Linked DNA regions of Homo sapiens: region 2 is linked to region 1. The links come from fine-mapping of genetic effects on gene expression. A gene starts in region 1. The other region holds a variant in brackets. All regions are shown on one strand. Distances are between the middles of the regions.

The links.
Region 2: its variant is fine-mapped to the expression of JDP2 in cerebellum (GTEx, PIP above 0.99).

What each region holds. Positions count from the first base shown.
Region 1 is chr14:75,425,338-75,430,701 of GRCh38, forward strand. It overlaps JDP2 (Jun dimerization protein 2), which reads left to right and starts at 2,685. Exons shown (of 4, transcript NM_001135048.2): 1 at 2,685-2,915. JDP2-AS1 (JDP2 antisense RNA 1) reads right to left here and starts at 2,318. Exons shown (of 2, transcript NR_184172.1): 1 at 2,133-2,318; 2 at 1-1,374. RefSeq lists enhancers at 1,454-1,553, 1,804-2,133, 2,154-2,213, 2,181-2,738 and silencers at 2,404-2,673, 2,924-3,103, 3,164-3,333.
Region 2 is chr14:75,467,782-75,473,145 of GRCh38, forward strand. JDP2 (Jun dimerization protein 2) reads left to right here. Exons shown (of 4, transcript NM_001135048.2): 4 at 1,509-5,364. The coding sequence ends at 1,694. Among named protein-coding and RNA genes, the nearest start is that of JDP2, 42 kb to the left of the region's middle. The variant T/C (reference allele first, on the strand shown) is at 2,033.

The DNA of each region.
Region 1 (5,364 bases):
CTTTGATTTTGGAGGAGCAGGTCTGGGGAATTCATTATTTTACCTCACCATTTCAGTTTTCCCCTCTTTACAAAGAGCTCGGGATTCATCAATCTCCATTAAACTTCAAAATGAAATAGTCCACATAAGTCAGAGATGCAAAACCCACTGTATTAATTAGGACTTTTCTAATTGCAAGTAATAGGAAACCCAAATTCAAACTGCCTTGGGTAAGACATAATTTACTGATTCCTATAGCTAAAACCTGCAGAGGTCAGGATGATGTCAGGCATGACTGAATTCAGGAACTCAGGCAATGTCATTGGAACTTGATCTGTCTTTCCCTCCGTGGCTTGGCTCTACTTTTCCTCCCATTAGCTTCACTCTCAGTAGTTCCCTTTCACGTGGGGCTTCTGGCAGCTTCTCTTTCCAGCAGATCCACAAAATTCCCAGTCTTGTGAGATTTTCTTGGGATATGTGACGATCTCTCAATCAGCCCATTGACTAGGGCTGGGCGTGTTAATCAGGACTTTTCTAGTTGTGATAGGAAACTTAAATTCAAACTGCCTTAGGCTGAGTCACTTGTCTGTCCCTAAGAGCCAGTGGTAAATCAGCTCCATCCAGCATCCAATGTCTGCATAAAGGACCCAGTTTATGGCTTCTCCCTCTAGCCACTCCCAGAGGCAGTGACTACGTAGAGGGGCCTAGTAGGGAGTATGTGGCGGAAGGGAGGCCTTGAAGCTGTGTTCTTATAGCGTCCTATATGAAACTGAAAAGCATCAATAGCAAATAACAGAGAAGATCTAATGGAGATTATAGAGAGGTAGAGGGGACTAAAGGCCTCCCAAGTCACCCCTTGGTGCCACCCCTGTAACATATTTAATTTGTGGGGGAAGCAAAGGCCCAGTAGGACTGCTGGTGGCCCAGCCACAGTCCAAAACAGGCCCTAGAGAGGACGCGCTCTAACCACACACCCTAATTATTAGTCCCTGAATATAGATCAGTTTAGTTTATCCAAAGCCCCAGCTGAAGACACATCAAGTACTATTGCCTCTGTTCCATGTTTTGTTCCATATAAACATCCAGACACAGGTCTCATGGGAGAAACATCATGAGGCAGTTTCACAGTCCCTGGCTTTGATCTTTACGCTGTAGTAAAGGTGTCATTGGCCTTTCTGGGGCGAAGAGTCATGCTCTTCCACAAGAGTATCAAATTACTGCTCATTTTCCAATGTATATTCTTTCAGGGCCTTGCTTTCTTCTTACCTGCCCACACCAATGCTGTGAGGGAGACTGCTGATGGCGAAGGTGAAAATGGTCAGGCAATGTCATTGGGACTTGGTCTGTCTCTCCTTCCATTAGCCCACTTCTTTTATCCAGAAAGATTTCACTGCACTGGGGAAATAAGGAGAATAAAGTCTCATGCACTCACTCACATGAGAGAGACATGCATGTTCGGGTTTGCTCAATGGCACCCATCTGTCTCAAGTCTTGTTGTTTCTTTCACTCTGAGCATCTGCACTCCAAGAAGGCATGAACTTTTTCTTTCACTTCCTTTCTTCTATGGGTGATGACCTGACATCACTCTCAGAAGGAGGCCGAAAGTCGCTGAGTATAAAAATCGTCACTCCTATCTGGCTTAGGCAGAAGGTAGGGGGCTCGATGGGTACCCAGGAGCTCTGGAGGTAGGAGATGCCATCTAGGGAACCCCGTTCTACCTGAGGGCTCTGTGTCTCTGCCTTTGTATACTGGAGGGCACCATGGATGTCGCCTTCCCTCTGGAGTCCCCTTCACCATTTCCTCTCTAGAAGGATGGAAGGTGGGAGTGGGGTTGGCTATTGAAGCTGGAACGGGGAAGAAGGCCACTTGGGGTCTGCTGAGGGCTGGGTCTGCTCACTGCTGTGTCCGGAGTGGAAAGGAGAAGCCCGCTGGAGCAGGGTACAAGCCCAAGGGTCAAACTGCGCCAGCAGTAGAGCAAGCCGCGGTCTCAGGCTGCAGCCCTAGCAGAGGTCAGGCTGGTGCAGCCAGCCGTCTCGGGGCCTAAGGGCGCTGGCGGGGGCCGGTGGGTAGGGGTAGGAGTCCCCAAATGCCTTCATCTCAGCCCATCCTTCTCCACCGAAAAATAAAGCAGGCTGGCGAGATCGCCTCCTCACCCGCTCAGTCCTGAAGTGTCCAAGGATGAAACTGTGCGGAAATTCTCCCTGTCGCTCTCAGTTTGTGGGGGAAGCGCCGGGACTGAGGTACATGGTTAACACAGGCTGTGCGTGAAGGGGCTTTTGACTTTTCCCCCGGCTCCGGCCTCTCGCGTCTCTCTCCTAGGGCTGCGGCTGCTGCTGCCTGGCGGGCACAAGCCGGGCGGCGGTGCGCGGGGGGTGCGCTTACATAACCGCTCGCCGCGTCCTGCTTTCTCGAGCGCTCCTGCACCGTGGGGTGGCGGAGCCGGGGGACTGCATGGAACCCGGGACGCCCCCGCGGGGAGAGGAGCGCGAGCGGCCGCGGGAGGAGGGCGCCCAAGGCGGCGGGGGAGGTTAAGGTCAGTGGGTGTGAAGCGCCGGCTCCACACCCCCTCCTCCCCGGTCCCCTCCTTCCCTTCCTCTCCGTCCCCCTCTGACGTCTGGAGCTGGCAGCTCGGCCGGTTCCGCATTCCCGACCCCTCCCCGCCGCCCAGGGGCCGCTATATAGCCGGGGCTGATGCAACCCGTCCCGCCGCCCGCCACAGCCTGCGGGAGGGACGCTCGGCGGCCGCGACGGGGGGCGCTGGCGGCGGCGGACGCTGCAGCGGCGGCGGGGCTGGCGCCGCGGCGGCTCCCGGGCCGGGACAGGCCTGGGCACCGGGCGGAGCTCCGCGGCCGGGCGGCAGCGGCGCGGAGCGGGCACGGCGCCTGCAGCCGGGCCCCGGCCCCGGGGGCGCCGCCTCCCCCCGCACCTTCTGCACGGTGGGTGCGAGGGCGCGCGCTGGGGGCGCCGGGACGGGCGGGGCGGGGCAGGGCGCGGCGCGGGCACCTGGGACGGCCGCCCCCGCACGGGCGGAGCGCGAGGAGCCCCAGCCCAGCCCCGCGGGGAGGCTCCCGCAGCCCAGGGACCTCGAGCTTTCCCCGCGCCGGGCGCTGCAGCCGGGCCCCTCCCGCGAGGCGCCCGGCAGCCTGAGGCTTCCTTTTGGTTCCCGCCCCGGGACGGGAGGCTCCGTCCGCTCCCTGGACAGCCGGGGTGCTCCCTCCTTCTCCCTCCCGCGCTCTCCTCCCCCGTCCGTTTGCAGGGAGGTGCTCTCCTCGGGCGGCGGGGAAGGCGGGGTGAGTGGGGAGAAAAGTGCCCGCGGAGATGGGCTGTGCGGGTGGAGGTGGAGGGTGAAGGGCCAGGGAGGTGCGGGGTTGGGGTCGGGGTTAGATTGTGGAGGGATGACAAGGACCTCCTGGCAGTGAGGAAGCGCGACTCCCGGAGGACCCGGACCCGGAGGAGAGTATTGAGAAGGGCTCGGGATTTCCATCCAATGAAGGCAGCTTCTCTCATGGCCATTGCTTCGGAGCTCTGGGCTGGGAGGGGATCTAGGGGTGGCCGGGGTCCCCTTTGGGCTCTCCTGTCTCCCACGCCAGGTTATATAAGGAGGCAAGCAGGCTCCTGTAGGTAACCAGCCTCTCCCTTGCCCAGCCCAGCTTAGAAGGCTCTCCTCTGCTCCTCCCTTCAAAGGAGGTTGTCGAGGGGTAGGGGTGCAGTGGGGGGTGGGAGAGTGTAGGGGTGGATTGGGCCTTCCACCTGGATCCCTGGACCCTGGGATGGCAGAGCCAGGCTTTGCCTGGGTCAGTAGGAGGAGCAGGGAAGATGAGGAGGCTGGGGAAGATGGGGAGGTCCTGGCTCTTTTGCAGGGATGGAGAGGCTGGTGGAAGGAGAAATCAGCCGACCCCCTTGGGTCATCTCCAGTTGCAAGATGGCGTGGCCCTTGCCCAGGGTGCTGCCCTCCCTGTTGGAATCCAGGGCATGGGGCTATGGCCCGACCACGTGTGCTCAGGGCAAATGTGCTCAGGTCTATATCTCAGAAAGGGCTTGCAGCCTGCTTAGGCGTGTGTACCCAGGCTTAAATCTTGGTGGTCTCTCCCTAGGGTCTTAATTGGAGGAGCATCAGGAATTGGGAAGCTTTGAACCATGTTTGGGTACATTTGTACCCAAACGTCCTTTAAGCCCTTGGTAGAAACTGCATTCGCGTATCATCTCCCTTCCCCCCAACCTTCCTTCCCTGAGGGTTTTAAAAAACACTTCCCATTGCTTTTACCTTTCCAGCAAATCTGGCTGCAGCTTGGATGGATAGCTTATCTTCCTTTGCAGGTTTCTAGGGGAGAGTTTAACCAGGTATCAGGTGTGAGCATGGCTCTGATTTTGTATAAACCTGAGGATCGAGGAAGAGAAGCAAAATCTATTCTCACACCTCTGGGTGGTTAAGGTTTTGCCTTGTTTAGAGCAGGGAGGATGGATTTCTCAAAGACTCTTCTGTTCCCTTCTACTTTGGCTTTGGTTCAGAGCTGCAGGCAGCTCCAGAATCTTCCTGAAGAGCTGGGTGCTGTGTGATTTGAAGGGCTGCAGGAAGTCATGGGTGTGTAGACCTCTGGCTTTTCTCCTAGGTGGGCTGCAGGAAGTCATGGGTGTGTAGACCTCTGGCTTTTCTCCTAGGTTGGCTGCAGCCACCTCCAAGGAGATGTGTTGCAAAGTGGTGACAATGCCCCCTAGGAAGGGTTTGGATAAGGGTCTCCCCACTCATCCACTGCCTAACTTTTGCAGCTACCAGGGAATGCTCCTCCTGACTCCCTGGGTTTGTTGTCATCTCCCTACCTGTTTGTAGGATGTGTGGGCATTTTTTTCCAACCTGCAGAATCCCTGGCAGGAATAGGCTCTCTGGGCCTTGTTTGTCGTGGGGCTACTGGTGTTGCAATGGGCTGTCTCTCTCGAGTGTCTGTTTCCAGCTCCACTCTGGAAAGAAAGGGGCCAACGCCGACTCTAGGCCGGCCTGCTCTGTATTCATTCAGCTCCAGCTCAACTTGAGCAATCAGAGCCAGGGTTGAGGGCAAGCTACATTCTTTTCTGCCTTTCTGCTGCAGGATGCAGTTTGCTTTTTTTCCATGCGAATGAATTATGTTTGAAACCGAAATGGGAGGAAGAGAAAAATGGAGTGAGTGTATATGGGTATGTGTGTGTGCATACCTATATAGGCAGGGGAGGGCAGCAGGCACATTATTTTTCCATTTTCCTTTAATTAAGGCTCTGTGGAGGTGTGTTTGAAAACAGAGGGTCTCCTATGCCTTTGAGGAGGGTGAGAACACTGTTTTGGCTGCGTCCCGGGCCATATGCAGCGTATGGTGGCCAATGAAACCGGGCCTGGCTCATTCTGTTGCTTGTCTT
Region 2 (5,364 bases), 42 kb after region 1:
GGACCAGGCCAGCTTCCCAGTCACGTCCCAGCCTGTGGAACCAAAAACCACCAGAGCTGGTTTTTAATATTTTCCCCGAGCATTTTTTTTTCCTTTAGTGAGGCTGTTTTCTCTCAGCGTCTGGTCACGAGGCCTGCCCGTCTCAGAGTTCCCGGGCACTCATGCTGCCACCTCAGAGATGAGCCAAGGAACAGTTCGGTCAGACCAGCTGTGGGAGGAAGACGGGACCCCTGGAGGGAGAGGGTTGGGCCCACTGAGGGTTCTGGGGACCCCCTGGGGAGGCCGCTCCACCTGTACCCTGCCAGGAGGACTGGCAGGCTTATGGGCTTACGGGCCCTCTGGTTGTCACATACGCAGTTGCAACTACTGCTTGCTCTTTGACTGATACAAGTTGCTCAATCTCTTACGCTATCGCCATTTTGGACTAAATACTTGTGGGGCTGGCCTGTGCATTGAAGGGTGTTTAGAGCATCTCTGGCATCTACCTGCTAGATGCTGGTAGCACAGCTCCCTCTGAGTTGTGACAATCAAAAATGTCTGCAGACATTGCCAAATGTCTCCTGGGAGGCAAAAATCAGTCCTAGTTGAGAACCACTGGTCTGAAACTTTGCTGGCCCTCGAATAAATGCCAAGTCTCAAAGTTTTCAGACATAATCCAAGAAAAATCATTCAGATGCTGTTTTACTGTTCAATCCCCCAAGCCTTGAATCGATATGCCCATCTCCCATCTACACGATGGACATGTAACCCTCGCCACCTCCCGAATCAAATCGTCAACATTCCTTCCTTCCCCTGGAACCTCTCCAGCTGAGCCGGAAGTTCCCTGGAAATCTCACTCAAGGTCTATTGGAAACCTCATTTGGGATCCAGCAGGATGACTGCTGATTCCCTGTCTGTGGGCAAAGCTTCCAGATTATAGGGATAAGGAAGAGGCTATTGAAATAATTATAGACTAATAGCTAGGAAGCACATGTTTTAGGAGGAATGACATGACTACACTACACTCACTGATCCCACCGGCCAAGATATCTCCCACATGTGTCTGTCACACATCAAAGCACGTTGCCGTTACACTGCCATCTGGGTCCCCTCTTGGGCCCCCCCATGCTTGCTCCGTAGACCTGCTCTAGGTCCACCTGGCCTCCTTTCTTTGCCCACCCTTTCTTTCTTGTGCAAAGGCCCTGAGGCGGCAGAGTATTTGGCATATTTGAGCAACAGCAAGGTGGTCACTGAAGCTGGGGTGGATTGAGGGAGGGGAGAGAGGTGGGACGTGAGTCTGGCTGGCCCTAGAATATAACCTGGACATGACACAGGCCAGTGTCACCGCTGTGGCAGGCACTGCCTGCAGAAAGTCAGTTAGCCAGGGGCTCAGTAGCAGGGTCTGTGCTTCTTCCTGCAGAAAACAGGCCAGTGCCAGCCCAGCGTGCCCTGTGCCTAACCACAGGCAGAGCCTCTCCCCAGAGCCAGTCCCCGTGAAACTCACAGCGTGCTTCTGTGTTGGTATACAGGAATCCGAGCGGCTGGAACTCATGAACGCAGAGCTGAAGACCCAGATTGAGGAGCTGAAGCAGGAGCGGCAGCAGCTCATCCTGATGCTGAACCGACACCGCCCCACCTGCATCGTCCGGACCGACAGTGTCAAGACCCCCGAGTCAGAAGGCAACCCACTGCTCGAGCAGCTCGAGAAGAAGTGACCATGGGCTGGGAGGAGGTGGAGGAGGAGGAAGAGGAGAAGGAAAAGTGACGAAGAGAGAGGAGGAGGGGGGCCCCAGATGGCCCTTCCTTTGGTGCATGAAAAACTGTACAATGAGGTTCAGCACAGCCAGCATCAGCCGAGCTTTTTTGTGAAACTCAGATCAGCCACCCAGGAGGAAGAGCGGGCTGAGGAAACCCAGAGGGACCAAGCGCTGAGACCAAAGTTGACCCTCGGGTAGGGTTGTCCTGCCTGGGGCCCCACTTGAAGGAGGCAGGACAGAGGCACCGAGGCCAGGGAGACGCCCAACGAGGCAGCCCTGGGCTCTTCTCTGGCCTC[T/C]TCACCAGGGCACCCATCCAAGGAACCTCCGAACAGCCAGGAAAAGCCATGAGTTGCAACCAAAACGCGGCTGAGGATGGAACTCAGAATGAAACTGCAACCCACCTGCCCCCAGCCCTGCCCCTCGCCCTGATGCGAAGCTGGAGAGGGGCGTGCTGCGGGGCCCTGATGCCCCCACCCACCTCGGTCCAGCGCGGCCCTGCCCAGGAGGCGGCAGCCGGGCGCACCCTCGCCAGCCCTGCTGGAGTTTGCTGTGGGCACTGAGGCGCGGGCGCCCTTCCAAAGCACATACTCACCGAATGTTTACAGACTGGCTGTCCTGGCAGGGCTTTCAACTGCACATGTTTTTTATACTTTCCTTTTTTTTTTTTTTTTTAATATTTTTTACAAAAAAAAAGATTTTATACAAGCAATATATATATGGATTTCTATAATCACTCGATGTGATACAGTATAAATATGCTATGGTTTGTTTGTTATGAACAGATAGCCACCAGTTACGGCCGTTGTGTGTAACTCCTAAGTACTGTAGTCTCTGGGTGTCGGGGGTGGCCAGGGCGGGGGCGGGGTGCATTTCCATCCTTGTAAACCCTTCATAGTACTCAGTCCTGTATCGCTCAGTAAACATTGCTCTTACTTACATAGCCGCCTTGCGTGGTGTCTGCCTGGGGAATGGGTGCAAGGCCCTCTCAGGGTCGGAGACTGTTTGGAGCCTCTGCTATAGGCCTGTTCATTTTCACAACAGCTCTCCTATTTCACAGATGAGGAAGCTAAGGCTCAGAGACATTAAGCCACCTGCAGTTACTATTTTGAGAGCAGTCAGAGTGTTCGCTCACTCTGCAGATGTTTTCTGAGGGCCTGTTGTGTGTGCCAGGCCCTGAGAATTCACTGGAGGATGAAACAGACCTAAGTCTTGCCCTTGTGGGGCCTCCAGTAAGGAGTGAATCCTGTGCTTGCTCCATAAGTTGTCTCATTTCGTCTTCATGGCAGCCTTGCCAGGGAACAGCACTTGTCCCCAATTCACAGATGGCGAATTAGAGGTCCAGGGAATTAAACTCGCAGACACCATTTGTTGAAGACTTATTTTGTGACAAGCAGACATAGTCTCTTCCCTTCTCACAAGAGCACAAACTAGGCACGATTCTTCTCATTTTACAGATGGTTTAACTGAGGCTCAGAGAAGGTAAGCGACTTATCCAAGGTAACCCAGCTAGCAAGGGATAGAGCTGGTGTTTGAACTCTCCCTCCAGAGGCCTGTGACTCTCCTCCTGTCACCAACCCACTATGATTGTCCTCATGGTTGAATAGGAAGCTTATGAGGCCACAGTTATAGATTTAGTTTCTGGGAAGGCTGGATAGAGTTCCAGGTTGTCCCATGATCACAGAGTGAACCAACTACCCTGGTCAATGTGTGTCTGACCCAGGGAAGGGTGTGGATGGCTTCTCTGCCCCCTCACCTCGACAGCTGAATCCCTGCCACCCAGGGCCGGAGCAGCTCAGTGGCATTCACTCAGTGCCTGCTGTGTACCTGGCACTCGGCAGTTCTCAAGGCATGTCACGCATGAGGAAGGCGGGAGAGGTGTTTTTAGCTTCCTTGTATACTGAAGCTTGCAAAGGCTACAGTTTACCCAACTAAACTTGACTCCTGCATTCTAATCATGTGTTCTTTCTCCTCCATCCCTGGACTTAGGATAACTAGTTGCTGGTGATGACTTCGTGTCAAGAACAGCAGTGAACCTGGGTTGCTTCCCAAATTGTGGACGAGGCCTTCTGGGATGGGCAGAAGTGGAGAATGGTGATTAACACACCTGTGATCCCTCCCTCGCTCACTCCTCTCAGTTTCCCTCCACCCAACACACTTGGTGTGGACTCCCCTGCACCCCGCCCTAGAAACAGGACCTGGTCCTCTCACTGTCAGCTGTGGCAGAAGGTTGTGGCAGCGGGTTGCCTTCTGTCTCGGGGGTCTTGAGGCTGTCGGTCCGGACGATGCAGGTGAGGCAGTGTCAGTTCTGCATCAGGAACCCCTCGCGCTGTAATCCTTTGATATTTTTCAAGCCATGAGAAAAATGAAGTGGACTTACCAGGGTCCCTCCAGTGACCTAGTGGATGTTCTTACAGGACTGCCGTGTGCCACTGGCTGTGGCTTCCCTGGTCCTGTGCTTGGCCACCGGGAGCTGGCATCTCCAAAATAGAGCCTCCTTAGCCTGTGCAGGTGGGCTGTCTTCCAAAGTCACCACACCAGTGACTTGTGCTGTGCGGAGCCTTCCTCACCAGGACCACTGGCTGCTCCTGTGGCTAGAAGTCACAATTATAGGCTTCATTGCAAGAGCCAGCATTTGAGTTTCTTCTGGGCACCTGCCACTGTGCATGTGTGACCTCAACTGCTTTGTGCACCCTGACTGGGGGGTAGGTGCTAGCGTTCCAACATTACAGATGAGAAAACCGAGGCACACAGAAGAGGTAACCTGCCCAAGGTCACAGGTGTTAGGTGGCAGAGCCAAGATGTTATTGTCAGTCTGACTTCAGGTGCATAAAACCTGAGGCTGAGCCTCCCCATGAGAGGAAAAATGTGTTTGTGGTGTGACCTCAGTTGCCAGGGAACTTGTGCAGGAAGCCGGGAGAGATGGCACAGACCCACCTGTGCTCACAGTACATGTTAAGAATTCCCAAGTCTCAGGCAAACCATCTCCAAGGGTGTTCACAGAAGACACACCTTAAAGGCAAACGGGTTCATGATGTAATCTTCTATTGACTAGCTGTGAACCTCATTTTTCTTATCTGTGAAGTGGGAACAGTAATAATCCAAGTCTTTTTATGGAGTTATCAAGATCAAAAAAGGAATGGATATACAAAGTGTTTTGTGAAATAAAAGCTCCCTAAAATGGTAATTATTTTGTCCTCTGTTAGTGTCGGTAGTTATTGATATCTACATAGTACAGGTTATTTAAATATGTTTTATTCTGTAAAGATGGGCTGCCAAGTTTGTGTTCTGACCCTGTACGTGGTCCCTATGGTGTGATGAATGCCTGGGATCGCAGACTCCTGGATCTGTTCAGCTCCTGACTGGTCACAACCAGCCATGCTGGATGCATCATTCCCTCCCTGGGCCTCAGTGTGCCCTCCTGCCAGGTGGTCACACATAAGACCTGTGCCACCTCTGCCCAGGGTTCCTATGAGAATCAATCGAGTTGATGAATGCAACCATGGCCTGAGAAAGACAAGACGCTTTAGCTATCAGATGGGCAGAAACAAGTATGTGTTGGTAAGAATATGGATTAAAGGTTGGGAGGCCAAGATGGGTGGATCATGAGGTCAGAAGATTGAGACCACCC